Linked DNA regions of Homo sapiens: regions 1 and 3 are each linked to region 2. The links come from fine-mapping of genetic effects on gene expression. A gene starts in region 2. Each other region holds a variant in brackets. All regions are shown on one strand. Distances are between the middles of the regions.

Region 1 (5,220 bases), 300 kb before region 2:
TGGTCAGGCTAGTCTTTTTATTTTATTTTATTTTTTGAGACAGAGTTTCACTCTTGTTGCCTAGGCTGGAGTGCAATGGTGTGATCTCAGCTCACTGCAACATCCGCCTGCCAGGTTCAAGTGATTCTCCTATCTCAGCCTCCCGTGTAGCTGGGATTCCAGTCATCCACCACCATGCCTGGCTAAGTTTTTGTATTTTTAGCACAGACAGGGTTTCACCACGTTGGTCAGGTTGGTCTCGAACCTCTGACCTCAGGTGATCCACCCGCCTCAGCCTCCCAAAGTGCTGGGATTACAGGCATGAGCTATTGTGCCCAGCCAGCCAGGCTGGTCTTGAACTCCTGACCTCAAGTGATCCACCTGCCTCGGCCTCCTAAAGTGCTGGGATTAGAGGAGTGAGCCACCGTGCCTGGCCAACAAATTGTAGTTTCTTAAAGGGTAGTTTCAATGTGGAATCTGAAACCACACCAATGAATTTTTGGTATTCTGTTACATCAAAATCCCTCAGTCTGTCTTGTAACGAGTGACTGTTCTACCTATGAATAATTTTGTAACACCATGCATTTGGAAAATATTGATTCACGAAGTTATGCCAATCTTTCAAATAAAAGATCTCATTCATTAATATCATTATAAACATTAAAAAATCCCATTCATAATATCACAACCAATCTTATAATAAAAACCTTCAGTATTGCAAAGTTGTCAAGCTCAAGATGGCAAATACAACTTTTCCAAAATTCTCATTTTATGTGAAAGCTTGGATTTATTATTGGCAGTGAATACTATCGGTTGTTTTCCATGAATTAATGGTCTCACTTCACTCACTTTTGAGAAAAATGCCAAATACCCGTCTGTATAACCATAGTTTATCTGTCAGTCATTCTTCCAAGCAAAAATGGCATTTTATGAAAAAAAGGGCCCAGCAAGGTGGCTCATGCTTGTAATCCCAGAACTTTGGGAGGCCAAGGCCAGTGGATCACCTGAGGTTAGGAGTTTGAGACCAGCCTGGCCAACATGGTGAAACCCTGTCTCTACTAAAAATACAAAAATTAGCTGGGCATGGTAGCGGGAGCCTGTAATCCCAGCTACTTGGGAGGCTGAGGCTGGAGACTCTCCTGAACCCAGGAGGCAGAGGTTACAGTGACCGGAGATCGCGTCATTGCACTCCAGCCTGGGTGACAAGAGTGAAACTCCGTCTCAAAAAAAAAAAAAAAAGAAAAGAAAAGAAAAAAAAAAGGAGCTATTCTGTTCCTAGAACTAGATCCAATCCCACAAGTGCTTTTCCTTGAAGTAGTTATTATGCTTGGATGTACAGCAGAAGTGCTTTATTAAGAAGACATGTCTTGGCCAGGCGTGGTGGCTCACGCCTATAATCCCAGCACTTTGGGAAGCCAAGGCAGGTGAATCACCTGAGGTCAGGAGTTTGAGACAGGCCTGGCCAACATGGTGAAACCCCGTTTCTACTGAAAATACAAAAATTAGTTGAGCGTGGTGGTGCATGCCTGTAGTCCCAGCTACTCAGGAGGCTGAGGCAGGAGAATTGCTTGAATCTGGGAGGCGGAGGTTGCAGTCAACCAGGATTGAGCCACTGCACTCCAGCCTGGGTGACAGAGTGAAACTCAGTCTCAAAAAAAAAAAAAAAAAAAAAAAGACATGCCTTGAGGGTTGTGATTTGATAAAATTAAAATTAATAATTTTTACTGCTTCACCAAGAACATTTGTTTTACTGTGTCAGTAAAGGTGTCGGTAAAGAGTGTAATGAGGGCCGGCCGCAGTGGCTCATGCCTGTAATCCCAGCACTTTGGTAGGCCAAGGCGGGCAGATCACAAGGTCAGGAGATCGAGACCATCCTGGCTAACAGGGTGAAACCTCGTCTCTACTAAAATACAAAAATTAGCCAGGCATGGTGGCGGGCGCCTGTAGTCCCAGCTACTCGGGAGGCTGAGGCAGGAGAATGGTGTGAACCTGGGAGGCGGAGCTTGTAGTGAGCCGAGATCACGTGCCACTGCACTGCAGCCTGGGCGACAGAGTGAGACTCCATCTCAAAAAAAAAAAGAGTGCAATGAGTACAAGGTCAGCCTGGCACCACTGTGTTAAGTAAGGTCCAGCAGATAAACCTGCCATTGATTTGCAGCATCAATGCAAATGTCAGCCCAGTTAAAAAGGCTAATAACAGAATAGAAAATGGTGTACCTGCTATGGAAAACAGTATGGTGGTTCCTCCAAAAATTAAAAACGAAAATACTGTATGATCCAGCAATCCCACTGCTGAGTATATACTCAAAGAAATTGAAAGCAGGATCTTAAAGAGATATACGCATACCCATGTTCATAGCAGCATTATTTACAATAGCCAAGAAGTGGAAGCAATCCAAATGTTCATCACAGATAAATGGGTAAACAAAATGTGGTGTATATATATGCAATGGAATATTACTCAGACTTTAAAAAGAAGGAATTTTTTTTCTTTTTTTTTTTTTTTTTTAAACAGAGTCTCGCTCTGTCACCCAGGATAGAGTGCAGTGGTGCCATCTCGGCTGATAGCAACCTCTGCTTCCCAGGTTCCAGTGATTCTCCTGCTTCAGCCTCCCAAGTAGCTGAGATTACAGGCACCTGCCACCATGTCCTGCTAATTTTTGTGTTTTTAGTAGAGACAGGGTTTCTCCACGTTGGCCAGGCTGGCCTCGAACTCCTGGCCTCAGGTTATCCACCCGCCTCGGCCTCCCAAAGTGCTGGGATTACAGGCATGAGCCACTGTGTCTGGCCTAAAAAGGAAATTCTGACACATGCTACAACATGGATGAATCTTGAGGACATTATGCTAAGTGAAATAAGCCAGCTACAAAAAGACAGCTTCTATATGATTCCAATTATATGAGATTTTTTTAAAAAAGTTTATCAATCTCAAATAAACTATATATCTGTATATGCTGTATATCCAAGCATAATAAAAAAAGTCTGTAATCCTAGCACTTTAAGAAGCCGCGGCAGGTGGATTGCTTGAAGTCAGGAGTTCGAGACCAGCCTGACCCACATGGTGAAACCCCATCTCTACTAAAAATACAAAAACTTG[C/T]CAGTCGTGGTGGCAGGCACCTGTAATCTCAGCTACTTGGGAGGCAGAGGCAGAAGAATCACTTGAACTTGGGAGGCAGAGGTTGCAGTGAGCCAAGATCACATCACTGCACTCCAGTCTGGGCAACAATGTAAGACTGTCTCAAAACAAAACAAAACAAAACAAAACACAAATGTAGCAAGGAAGCCCCAAACCAGAATAGGTTCAGAAAGGCTCCTTTTAAAAGGTGTCCAAAGTAGTAAAATACCCAGAAAGATAAAGTAGGATTGTGGCTGCCAGAGGCTTGCAGAGGGGGAAAATGAAGAGTTGTTTAATGGGTATAGATTTTCAGTTTTGGAAGATGAAAAAAGTTCTAGAGATCTGTTGTGCAATAATGTGAATCTACTTGACACTACTGAATTATACACTTAAAAATGTACAAACGTAGGCTGGATGCAGTGGTGCATATATCATTATAGATGTTTAAAAGTGTTATTCATTAATATCACAATCAACCTTATTAATATAATAAAAACCTTCAGTATCACAAAGCTGTCAACCTCATGATGGCAAATACAACTTTTCCAAACTTCTAATTTTATGTGAAAGCTTGGATTTATTATTGGCAACAAATACTGTCTGTAGTCCCAGCTACGCGGGAGGCTGAGGCAGGAAGATCACTTGAGGCCAGAAGTTTGGAGCTGTAGTGCACTATGATCATGCCTGTACCCTAGCTTAGTAAACATAGCAAGACCCCATCTCTAAAAAAATAAATAAATAAAATTTAAAATTTTTCAATGTACAAAGATGGTACATTTTGTTATTTTTATCACAATTTTTAAAGGCAAATAAGGTAGTATAACTATTATCATCATTACTGTAAGAATAGTTTTGACCTCATAAACCCTCTGAAAAGGTCTCAAGGATTCTCCAGAATCAGGAATCCTTGAGAATCATTGCTCTAAACCAGGCATTGACATAATATTTTTGTCCTCATTTCTGCTTATATATTTCCTGCATTCAGAAACAAGTCTACACTCCACAACATGGCCTTCAAGACCATTCATGATCTGGCGGTATTACCCCTTTTTGTTCTGCCTTCTCTGTGTTCTAACCACAATGACATTTGTTGTACTCCGCACACAAAATACACTTTCACACTTCTATGATTTTGCTCAAGCCACATTCTGGGAACCCCTTTTCATTCTGTTAAAATCCTACTTGTTGGGCCAGGCGCAGTGGCTCACACCTATAATTTCAGCACTTTGGGAGGCCAAGACAGGCGGATCACCTGAGGTCAGGAGTTCAAGATCAGCCTGGCCAACATGGTGAAACCCCATCTCTACTAAAAATACAAAAATTAGCAAGGCGTGATGGTGGGTGCCTGAATCGCTTGGTCTCAGGAGGCGAAGGTTGCAGTGAGCTGAGATGGCGCCACTGCACACCAGCCTGGGTGACAGAACAAAACTCTGTCTCAAAAAACAAAACAAAAAAAATCCTACTTGTCCTTTAGGATTCAGCACAAACACCTGTCCCTCACCAAGTCAGGATAAAATGTCCCTTTCTGTAGGCTCTCTGGGCATTTTATTTGTCCCTTTACCTTTCTACTTATTTTCTTTGTTCTCTATTTAGTCATTTGTGTGTCTGTGTTTTCACTAGATTGTAAAAATTCCCAGGGTGATTTTTACAGGAAACAGGTAACCTGTTTCCCTTGCTGCATACTTAGCACAGTGCCTCCTTGGGTGAGCTGGGCAAGTTAGCTGTTCTCCTAACTTCTGTTTCCTCATCTGTAAAGTAGGAACAACGACACCCATCTTGTAAGTTCCTGGGAAGATTCAGTAAGATCATATCTGTTGATGTCTAGCCTAGTTCCAGGGACATTGTAGGACTGAGGTGGGAGAATAGGGTCTGGAGACAGGAAGCCTAAGGCCAACCCATGGTTGCCTTCTTGGAAGTGGACTAAGAGGAAAACCCCACCTTTCCACAACAAAGTAATGAGGGACCAAATGTCCCCCACTTTCTGAACCTCTCCTCCCCTACATCCTGAACAGGAATGTCTGTAATTGGTCTATTCTGAAACCTTCATTTGCATATGCATCACAGGCAGGATGCCTCTGATTGGTCCTGGGCAGAATCCTCCCTCTGACTGGTCCTGGGCAGAAGTC
Region 2 (5,220 bases):
TGACAGCAGAATATTCTACCAAGAGTGATGCCTTTCTACATGTGGGGCTCTGTACGACTGCACAGGTCACACTCCCATGAAGCTGGCCCTGATAGTAATTATTGGTTTACATCTCCATCTCCCTTATTAATCAGTTATTAATCACTGGATGGCTATGGGAGAACACTGTCTAAGGTAAGCCTGTCTGATTAACCTGTATGCCCCCAAGAGGCTAGCAAGGTGCCAGGTATAATCAGTAAAGGGTTGTTGAATGAACAAATGAAAATAACATTATGTTCTCAATTCTAAAATGCACCAACTCTAATAGCTTTAACAGAAAGGTAAGAAGAGCCATATTAAATGTCCCTGTTTATTGTAAGATGCTTTCCAGTTTCAGAATAGTTTACAAAATACAGGTCTTAGAACTGCGAAAACACGGTGGTGCTTTTTAACATCCTCTATCACGGCTGTTCTTTTTTTTTTTTTTTTTTTTTTTGAGACGGAGTTCCAGGCAGGAGTGCAATGGTGCAATCTCTGCTCACTGCAACCTCTGCCTCCCGGATTCAAGTGATTCGCCTGCCTCAGCCTCTGAGTAGCTGGGATTACAGGCGCCCAACACCACACCGGGCTAATTTTTGTATTTCGGGTAGAGACAGGGTTTCACCATGTTGGCCAGGCTGATCTCGAACTCCCGACCTCAGGTGATCCGTCTGCCTTAGCCTCCCAAAGTGCTGGGATTACAGGCGTGAGCCACTGTGCCCGGCCGTCAGCTCATCCTTTTTTTTTTTTTTCTTTAAGACTGAATCTGGCTCTGTTGCCCAGGCTGCAGTGTGGCACAGTCTCAGCTCACTGCAACCTGTGCCTCCCGGGTTCAAGCAATTCTCCTGCCTCAGCCTCCTGAGTAGCTGGGATTACAGGCACGTGCCACTGCACTCGGCTAATTTTTTGTAATTTTAGTAGAGACGGGATTTTACCATGTTGGCCAGGCTGGTGTTGAACTCCTGACCTCAGGTAATCCACCCGCCTTGGCCTCCCAAAGTGCTAGGATTATAAGCATGAGCCACTGCGCTCGGCCCAACGGCTGTTCTTATGCTCCACGGAAAGTGAGATGTTTCCTTCAGTTCTAAAGTGGGTTCCTGGGAACAACTTTCTTATTTTCATGACATCTGCTCTTGACTGAACCCTGGGCTGGAAATGGTCTGCAACCTCACTTCATGATTGAAGAGACAATGAACCGTTCTTGTGAGCAGCAGGGTAGGTGACCAATCTACTAGTCTCTTACCAGACTTCTAGGTATCCCTTGGGAAGAGGGCTCTCCAAGCCCCTTATGTTATTTAATGTAATGTGGCATCTTAAAACATCATCTCCCTGGGGAAAAGAGGTCTTGGCTCCCAGTTCTAGCTCTTCTGGGCCTTTGGCTTCTCCTTTCCGTGCCTCACTTTCCCCTTTATACAGGGAGGAGAGCCGGTGGCCCCACAAGGAAACAGAGAGCAGGGAGTTGTTGGGGTGCGGGGTGGGGGCCGTTGAATCAGAACAACTCCAAGGTATGTTCCTAGAGAGGTGGGCAGTCTCAAGCCTCCCAAGCCCACACCTCACCATCCCAAGCTTTCAAGACCGGAAAAGGTAGAGGAGGGAAGAGGGCTTTAAGGATGCCCACTGAACCTCCACCCCCAACTTTCAGCGCCGGAGGCAGTGTTTCCTCACACCTACCCTGGAAAGCCGGAATCCGGAGCCACCCCTTCCCCCACGTCTTCAGCCCCTCCCCCTGCGGCTTCCCCACCGTGGCCCCCTCCCCCCCATTACAGCATCGCTCTGGGCGCCAAGACGGATTCAAGCCAGGGGACTGCTGCAGTCCGCTCTCCGCCTCTCGGCTCCCGCAGCCTGTGTCCGGGCTCCGCAGCCTCCAGCTGTGCTTCGGACAGTCCCTTTCCCCCCACCCCGACCCCGCCATGGCACAATCCCAGGCTCAGGGCCCAGAGGCGGGCGGGCACAGTGGGCACGGGCGGGGGCCCAGCACAGGCGGCAGGTACAGCGGGGCTCTCCCTCCACACTGGGGATGCCTCGGCTGTGCGGACTGTGGGTGGGGGACGCCTGCCAGCGGCTCCGAGGCCGGGCACAGCGCCCCATCCTGGCAGGGGCTGGGGCCGAAGAGGGGGGCTCCCTGACCCCAAGCCAGGAGCTGAGGTCAGGCGGCCGACCGGGAAAGCCCGAAGGAGAGTCTCCTAAGCGGACGGGCCTGGGGGCTGTGTGTGACATTCAGGGCGTGACTGCCCCTCGGCGGGGGGCGAGACCCGGTCCGTGAGGCTGAGCTGGTCCCCGACCGCCCGCCCGCCGCCGGGCTTGGGTCCCTGTACCCAGGTCGGCTGTGCGTGGCCGTGACACTTCGGGTGCCTGTTCCTGGGTCCCCGGGGAGGGGGATCTCATTCCTGCCCCTACGCTGGGCGCCCCCAGCACCGTCGCTCAGCGAGGTGGGCGCTCCTCCGGGACCCCGGCGGCCGCCCGCGGGCGGCGACCTCGGCCCTCCTGGGTCCGCGCGGGGGCGGGGAGCTCGGTCCCCCTCCCTCTTCCTCTCCCTCTCCCTCTCCCTGCTCGGCTGCCCTGCGCGGGGGCGGGGGCGGGGGCGGAGCGCGCGGGCGGGATCCCCCCGCCTCCCCTTCCCGGTCCCCGGGAAATCCAGCCTCCGTGGCTTGGCCGCCTCCCGCTCCCGCGCCCGCTGCCGCTCGGCGCTCGCTTGGGGCTCCGCAGCCGGCGCGGCCCCTCAGCTGGGGGCTCCGCAGTGCCGGGCCCCGGTCCCTGCCCGCCTGCCCAACGCCGCAGCGCCCCCGGCCCGGGCCGCCGGCACCATGTAACCCGGCCGGAGCCCGAGCCGGGCCAGGTAAGCCGCGGGGAGGAGTGGGGACGGGGCCGCGCTCGCGGCTCCCTCTGCAGCGCCCCCCAGGCACGGCCCGGCTGCGGCCCCGGCGCCGCCCACGCCCCGGGCTCCGGCGCTCGGCTCCCGGCCCCGGGAGGGGGGAGGGGCTGGGCCTCCTCAGCTGCCCCCGCTCCTGCCCCGGCCTGGCTGCCCGCGGGCCCGACCCGAGGGGCGGGCAGGGGACCACGCGGACCGCGGACCCACGCTCCCGGTCAGGGCCGCGGGGACAGGCCAGCCCCGGCCCAGCCCTCGCCCGGCTGGAGGCTCGGGTCTGGGAGGGAGTAGCCAGCTGGTTGTGGGGGAAGTCGTGGTGCTGGGGAGATCCGGAGAGAAGTTTCCTCTGCAGGTGTGTGAATGTGAGTGCGTGTCGCTGTGTGTCTGTGCCGAGTGTGTCACTGTGTGGGTCTGTGGGCGATTGTGTGTGCCGGTGAGTGTATGCCGTGAGTGTGTGCGTGTGTCACTGTGGGCGAGAGTGTGTGTGCATGTTAGTGGGTGTATGCAGCGTGAGTGTGGAGGGTGGTACTGTGTATGCATCTGTGGACATGTGAGTGAATGAGTGTGTGTTGTCCCCATGTGTGCCTGTGTGTGTCTGTGAGTGTGTGAATGGATGTGTGTGCCGGCGTGACTGTCTCTGTGAGTGGGTCCCGGTATCTGCCCTGTGTGACTGTGTGTGTGTGTGTGTGCGTGTGCGCGCGCGTGCGTTGGCTGTGTGAGAGAGAGTGTATCTGAGCGCGGTTCACTCTGAATCACCCACACCTGGGCTCTGTCCCCCCCACTGTCCCCCCATTCCTGGTGGGATATGGGACAGGGAGATGAGACTTTTCCGAGGTCAGATCATTCCCCACTTCTCTGGGGACCCCTGACCCTTGATTCAGGCAAGAGCTTTGTGGCACTCCCCAGCTTGGTCTCTACCTTCACCTACCTCAGGGGGTGCCCTCTGGGATGTTGCTGGTCGTGTCCTTCCTGCATGCTAAGGCCCCTGGTGGGTGGGAGGGGGGATCTGGGGCGAGCTGGAGTATGTGCCTGCGTGTGCTGCTTCTCCTTTTGGGGGCCTGGGAACTTGTGTCATCTCAATAATGTTTCACCAAGGGCCTTTTAGAGCTAGGAGATGAGGAGGCCAGGTGGAAGCGTCTGCCCTGTTAGTCATCAGAGCAGGTGGCGCTCTCCCAGACTTCCAAGTCCCAAACCTTCAAGTTCTGGGTTATTGGTTCAGTCCACTGGCTCCGGGTGGGTCTGTACTAAGCTCTTTGAAGTAATAATAATAAAATAATGCCCTCATATTAGTTCAGGGCTTTTGAAAATGCTGCCCTCTGAACTCTTCTTATTTCCCCAACAGCCTTGGGAAGCAGGCAGGACAGGTATCACGTTAAGCCATATGCAACTGCAATATTCAACTGTTTTTATTTAACCTACAAAAACAGCAATTTCATATGGTTCAACCAAATATAATGCCGATTTACAGATGAAGATGTTGAGGCTTGAGAAATGAATTGCATTTTCCACAACCACACACTGCTAGTTAGTGGTACAGAAAGACCTCAGCCCAGGTCTTTCAGTGACCCAAAGAACTGGGCTGGGCCAAGGTTAGAGAGTGGTACTTCCTGGTGTGCTCTCTCTGACCCTGGGGGCACTGCCCTCTACCACTGCGCAGCATTCCCTGAATGCTGGGGCTACTTCTGCACCCAGCTGCCAATGCCTAAAAGAGTGGGGGGTGGGGGGAGAAGAGAGGAGGGAGGGGAGGGAGAGGCTTCGTGAGTTGGCAGTGAATCAGGGTCTAAAAAGGGAGCTGGGAGGGCTAGGGTGGCAGGTGTTTCTAAAAGGAACATGAACATAGGATGAACGGCCTCACATACAGCCCCCGCATCTCCCACCCGCCACTGCCCCACTGATCTGGCAGGCAGGGCCCGCTGAGTTTTGTGCCAGGGGGCTCACATCCAACGAGTGAGCTTGTATGTAGCTGTAGAATGATGGCCAGGAGAGGAACCTTAGTATTGACTTGGTCCAACCTCTTCATTACAAACCGGGGACTCTGAAGCCCCAAGAAGGGAGGGGACTTGCCCAAGGTCACACAACGAATTTGTGAGTTCCTAGGCTAATCTTAGACGAGGAACTTTGCAATCCTCCATGTTGCCTTCTATTCCTGAACTCTCCCCACCCCCATCAGAGCTGAGTACAGGGGATTTTTGGAAAAGAAATGAAGACTCAAAAAGCCTAAGGCTGTACATCTTTCAGCTTGGGACTCCTTGCCAAAGAGAGGGCGCTACAGATGTCGCTGGGGATAGGGATTCCTAGCCACACCCACCACCGAGGTAGGCCATGGGCTTGTCTTG
Region 3 (5,220 bases), 60 kb after region 2:
AAATGTCCGTGTTCTCCCGGGGTTTGGATCTTGGATCCGTTGTTCTTTTCTTGGGTGAGCTTGTCCCACACTGCTGGTTTTAAATGCCACTTGCACAGGGATAAGCGCCTCCTGCTTGTGCTGTACACATCTCTGGCTGCTGGCCAGGAGCGTTGGTGAGGACTGTGCTTCTGGTCATCCCATCAGCTCCTCGACTTCCTTGGTCTCCTTTGAGGCAGACATGTGAGAGAGCTCACTGAGGCAGTGGCTTGAGAAGCATGCAGCCTGGGGCACTTGGTCCTTCTGTTCCCGGCAGTATGGCTGTTTCCATCGCGATGGAATGGGATCCTCTCAAGACATCTCAGAGGACAGGCGGAAGGCAGCGAACATGGCAGTGCCGAAGGACACAGCTGTGTTTAGCAGGGGCGACAGGAAAGCACGCAGGTGTGGCAGATCATCAGGCACGTATTTATTGGAGCAACCCCCTCCTTTACCTTTGTGGTTTGCAACAGCTGTAGCTCTGAAGGAGCCACAAGCTAACTAGAGCACAAAGGCACAAAAACATTCAAAGTAAGTCAAGATGCATCCTAACAGTGCAGCTAGACATTCAAGACTCTCACCAGAAAGAGAACAATCTGCCTGAACGGCAGGGCTGCCTCTGAAGCCAGGAGGGCTGCTGAGGGAGGTGTGGTACTCAGGAGTGGTCTTGTGGGCAGTGGAGGGTGAAACAGGTAAAACAGGACTTAAGGAGGGAATGGACAAGGAGCCAGGAGGAGGAAGGCCATTTCAGGCAGAGGAGTAGCGTGTGCAAAGGCTTGGAGTCAGGATCGCTTATAGTCGATTCAAGGAACAAGGAGAATGTGGGGGAGATGAGGTTGAAGAGGAGGACTGTGTCCAGGACATCAGGGCCTCAGATAATGCTGGTACAGGAAGTCTGAACTTTGTCTTGTTGGTAGTAGGGGGCTGTGGAAGGGTTTTGAGCAGGGGAATGACTTGGCAGAGCTCAGCTTTAGGAAGACTATTCCAGTCTTGGGTGGACTGGGGAGGGCCCCAGATCTTAAAATATGCAAAATATAATTTTAGAGAGAGGAACTACCTTGGCAATTACTTATCTATTTCTATAATTGTATATATGTGTGTATTTTTAGATGTATATGTGTGTATATTTATATCTAATACATATATTTTAAATACATACACACATACACATTGGATGACCTAGATGGAGGGTGAGTGACAAAGGCACACAGTGAGAAAGCCAGCATTAGAACTCAGAGCTAACTCCTGGCCCCGTGCTCTTCCTCTGCAGGGTACTGATGGAGGCAGAGGTATCTGAAAGGAGGCCAGTCTAATCATCAGGGCAGATGGTGATGCAAACCTTGACCAGGGCAGGACAGGGCAGACACTGAGGGGAAGACTGTGTGGGAGGCAATGAGGATATGTTCTCTCTCCTTCTCCCTCTCTGGGTGGGGGTTGGGACATAGGGCTCGTTGGAGACTGCACATGAGTGCATCTCTCCTTCCTGGGTCCTGCAGCATCCTTCTGGGCCTGGTTTCTATGGCAACAGGCTCCCAGCAGGCAGCCTGCCAGCTGGAGAGAAGTAGGCAGGCAGGCAGGGAGAGAAGGCCTGGGCAGCAAGAGAAAGGCTGAAGTTGCGGGGGTTGGGAGAGTCTCTTGGGGAGGTGGAGGGACCCTAGAGCTGGGCCCACAATCCCTTCTGACCATGTAGGGGTGGAGGTAGCTCAGGACACACAGGCTTTTCTTTTGTGGTCCTTGAATTTCCAAACCTTGATCTTCTGTTTATCCCCCACCTCCCACATCTCCTGACTCCCACTTCTTAAAGTATTGCCTGGTCCCAACCTCATGCATCTTAAGCGGCCACTGACTTCTTTATAGAAAAGAACTCTGAATTCAGGGAAAAAATGAAAACGGCCAGTTGACTTTTTGGTTTGCATAAGATTTGCATATTATTAACTCAAAGACAAGAAATTTCCAGGCCCTATGTCATTCCTGCAAACAACTTAATTCAGCTCCACTGGCACTGACTTACTGTGTCTGGCCAGGCTCTGGGCTGAGCCATCGGGGTCCCTAGAGAAGTCCTCCCAGCTGCAGGCCCACTCCACCTCCAGCTGCTCCAAGGCATTTCTTCCTGTGATGTTCTAGCAGCTGGTGCAGTGGGAAGTGCTTGGACTGTGGAGCCCAGCAGCGCTGAGTCCAAATCCTGGCTCTGCTACTTTGAAGCTGGGTTTACTTAGTTTACTCATCTCTAGGTAGAGCTGAGGACACTCTAGTGCAGCTGGTGTAAACTAGCATAGACATAGAATTTGTTAAAATATTGAAATACTTCGGCCAGGCGTGGTGGCTCACACCTGTAATCCCAGCACGTTGGGAGGCCAAGGCGGGTGGATAACCTGAGGTCGGGAGTTCGAGACCAGCCTGACCAACATGGAGAAACCCTGTCTCTTCCAAAAAGAGACAAAAGGCGCATGCCTGTAATCCCAGTTACTCGGGAGGCTGAAGCAGGAGAATCGCTTGAACCCGGGAGGCGGAGGTTGCGGTGAGCCGAGATCGCGCCATTGCACTCCAGCCTGGGCAACAAGAGCAAAACTCCATCTCCAAAAAAAAAAAAAAAAAAAAAAAAATTGAAATATCTTCTGCCTTCACTGGTAAAGAGCCACCACCCTGGCTCCTCCCTGACCCCTCTAGCCCACCCCACAATCTAGCCTCTCCAGGGCACTGCTGCAGCATTTTGGTCTGTGCCTGCTCTGCCTGGTATATGCCAGCATCTGCTCTGTCCATGGACTGAACTGGTTGCTAAATAGCTTGGATATCACCCCTATCTAGAGGCAGTGCAATAGGTAGGTATATTATGTACGTAGCTGTTGCAAGGACCAATATATTTAAAGTGCATAGGTTAATGTCCATCACTTTGTAGGTTCCCTTTCTCATTCCCTTCCTTTTTTTTGCTTGGGGTGGGGGTGAGAGCTGGCATGAGCCTGGGCAATGGGG[G/T]ATGACAGCCACCCCTCTCCCCAGGCGAGCAAGGTTCAAGCGCTCCAATAGTGTGACGGCTGGCGTGCAGGCAGACCTGGAGCTGGAGGGCCTGGCAGGCCTGGCCACGGTGGCCACAGAAGACAAGGCCCTGCAGTTTGGACGCTCCTTCCAGAGGCACGCCTCTGAGCCCCAGCCTGGGCCCCGGGCCCCCACCTACTCAGTCTTCCGCACGGTCCACACGCAGGGCCAGTGGGCCTACCGCGAGGGCTACCCACTGCCGTACGAGCCGCCGGCCACCGATGGGTCGCCCGGCCCTGCCCCCGCCCCCACCCCCGGCCCTGGGGCCGGCCGCCGTGACTCCTGGATAGAGCGCGGTTCACGTAGCCTCCCCGACTCAGGCCGCGCATCCCCCTGCCCACGCGACGGCGAGTGGTTCATCAAGATGCTGCGGGCAGAGGTGGAGAAGCTGGAGCACTGGTGCCAGCAGATGGAGCGTGAGGCGGAGGACTATGAGCTACCCGAGGAGAGTGAGTCACGGCATCGGAACAAGGGGACTCTGGGGACCATGGCCTCGTGTGTGCTCAGGAGACCCTGATGGGGGTGGCTGGGGCTGCAGTGTAACAGGAGGCCCCTTCGGTTGGTGCCTCACTGGTCTTCTGCACTGGAGCGTGGCGGGTCAACATCGGCAGCAAGACATGCTGGGAGCTCTTGAAAGGGAGCAGGGTGCACATGGTGCAGCTTTAGAGGCCAGGGCTGGGACTGCAGACACTGCAGGCCAAAGGGCTGGGCCTTCTATGGATGGCTGCTAGTCCAAATCACCAAGTTTATGGGGACTAAGGGAACTCCGTTCAGATCTGGACTGGTGTGGGGATCCAGGTGGTGCGACCAAGATTACAGAGAGGGAGGCAGTTCACAATGTCAGATCCTGTCTGAGGCACAGAAGAGGGAGATTCAGCCAGGGAGATGTGGCCCTGGCCCGAGGGAGAGCATGGCCCTTCCTGTAAGTCAGATCCACTGGGAGACACAGTCTTACCCCAGAATCTCTGAGTTGAGGGGACAGTGGCTATGAAGATGTGTTATGTACATGAAATTACTTGGTCATTCTTAAAGAGCCAAGGAGTCTTGCATGCACTGGGGAGTGATGAACAAAGCTTAGCCAGTGGGTGGTCATTGAGCTAATGCCCTGGCCAAGGCTATAGGGCTAGGCTGGGGCTGGTTTCCGTCTGTTCTCTGATACGGGAGGGAGAAAGGATAAAGAAGGATGAGCACTCAAGAAATGTAGGCTGTATGAAGGAGGGAACATCAGTGTCTGAGGATACAGTCTTGGTGTAGTGGAGCGAGAACTTGTTAGGAACTTGAGGATGGGATGGGGCTGGGGCTGGAGGAGACTGATGGATACACAGTGCCAAGCAACCGAGGGGTCAGCGTCATTCAGGGCAGACTTCGTGGAGGCTGGGGAAGGAGATGCATCATTTCCCTCCCTGAATTTCCTTCTGCTTTCTAGTCCTGGAGAAGATCCGCAGTGCTGTGGGCAGCACACAACTTCTCCTGTCCCAGAAGGTTCAGCAGTTCTTCCGGCTGTGTCAGCAAAGCATGGTGAGTGCCCATAGTAGTAGATCCTACCAGATACATGTGACCCAGAGTGTGTGTGTGCTGGAGGTGAGACAGGCAGGTGACCCAGAGTGAGTGTGTACCAGAGGTGAGACCAGGCCTGCATGCCTTCTGGGGTAGCTGTGAGTCTTGTGCCTGGAGGTAGGACCAGGTGTTTGTGCACAAGAAGGGGAGTCCTGGGCTCGCTCTTGTCCCCCTGTCTCCCAGCCCCCACCCACTCTCCCAGGCTGAGCTTCCTGGCAGTAAGGGTGGATAGGACTTTCTCTTGTCCTGGCTGGGGCTCAGACCTCCTTGACCAATCACTTTCCCTCCATCTTCCTCTGTTGCAGGATCCCACTGCGTTCCCTGTGCCCACCTTCCAGGACCTGGCGGGTTTCTGGGACCTCCTACAGCTCTCCATCGAGGATGTGACCCTCAAGTTCCTGGAGCTACAGCAACTCAAGGCCAACAGCTGGAAACTCCTGGAGCCTAAGGTGGGGCTGGGGTGCCTTCAGGCAAAGAGGCCAGACTCTGGGAAATTCCCCTCCCCAGAGAGGTGGAGGGTGGGACGAACAAGGGGGCAGGGGAAGGGATCCATGGGCAGCAAGGGCAGCCTTGGACAGGTGATAGGTGACCATCCCCTTCCAGAGTGACCACGCT

Direction of the effects. Alleles are on the strand shown, and positions count from the first base shown. SD is a standard deviation of normalised expression in the study named.
As copies of T replace C in region 1, the expression in aorta of the gene that starts at base 2,655 in region 2 goes up (moderate effect, 0.43 SD a copy in GTEx).
For the expression in subcutaneous fat of the gene that starts at base 2,655 in region 2, T is the high allele of the variant in region 3 and G is the other (large effect, 0.91 SD a copy in GTEx).

What was found.
Region 1: its variant is fine-mapped to the expression of DLGAP3 in aorta (GTEx, PIP 0.98).
Region 3: its variant is fine-mapped to the expression of DLGAP3 in subcutaneous fat (GTEx, PIP above 0.99).

What each region holds. Positions count from the first base shown.
Region 1 is chr1:35,229,721-35,234,940 of GRCh38, reverse strand. No RefSeq gene overlaps it. Among named protein-coding and RNA genes, the nearest start is that of ZMYM4, 36 kb to the left of the region's middle. The variant C/T (reference allele first, on the strand shown) is at 3,077.
Region 2 is chr1:34,927,085-34,932,304 of GRCh38, reverse strand. It overlaps DLGAP3 (DLG associated protein 3), which reads left to right and starts at 2,655. Exons shown (of 12, transcript NM_001080418.3): 1 at 2,655-2,854. RefSeq lists silencers at 2,047-2,096, 3,077-3,146.
Region 3 is chr1:34,866,882-34,872,101 of GRCh38, reverse strand. DLGAP3 (DLG associated protein 3) reads left to right here. Exons shown (of 12, transcript NM_001080418.3): 9 at 3,013-3,497; 10 at 4,475-4,566; 11 at 4,911-5,054. Among named protein-coding and RNA genes, the nearest start is that of SMIM12, 9.7 kb to the right of the region's middle. The variant G/T (reference allele first, on the strand shown) is at 2,989.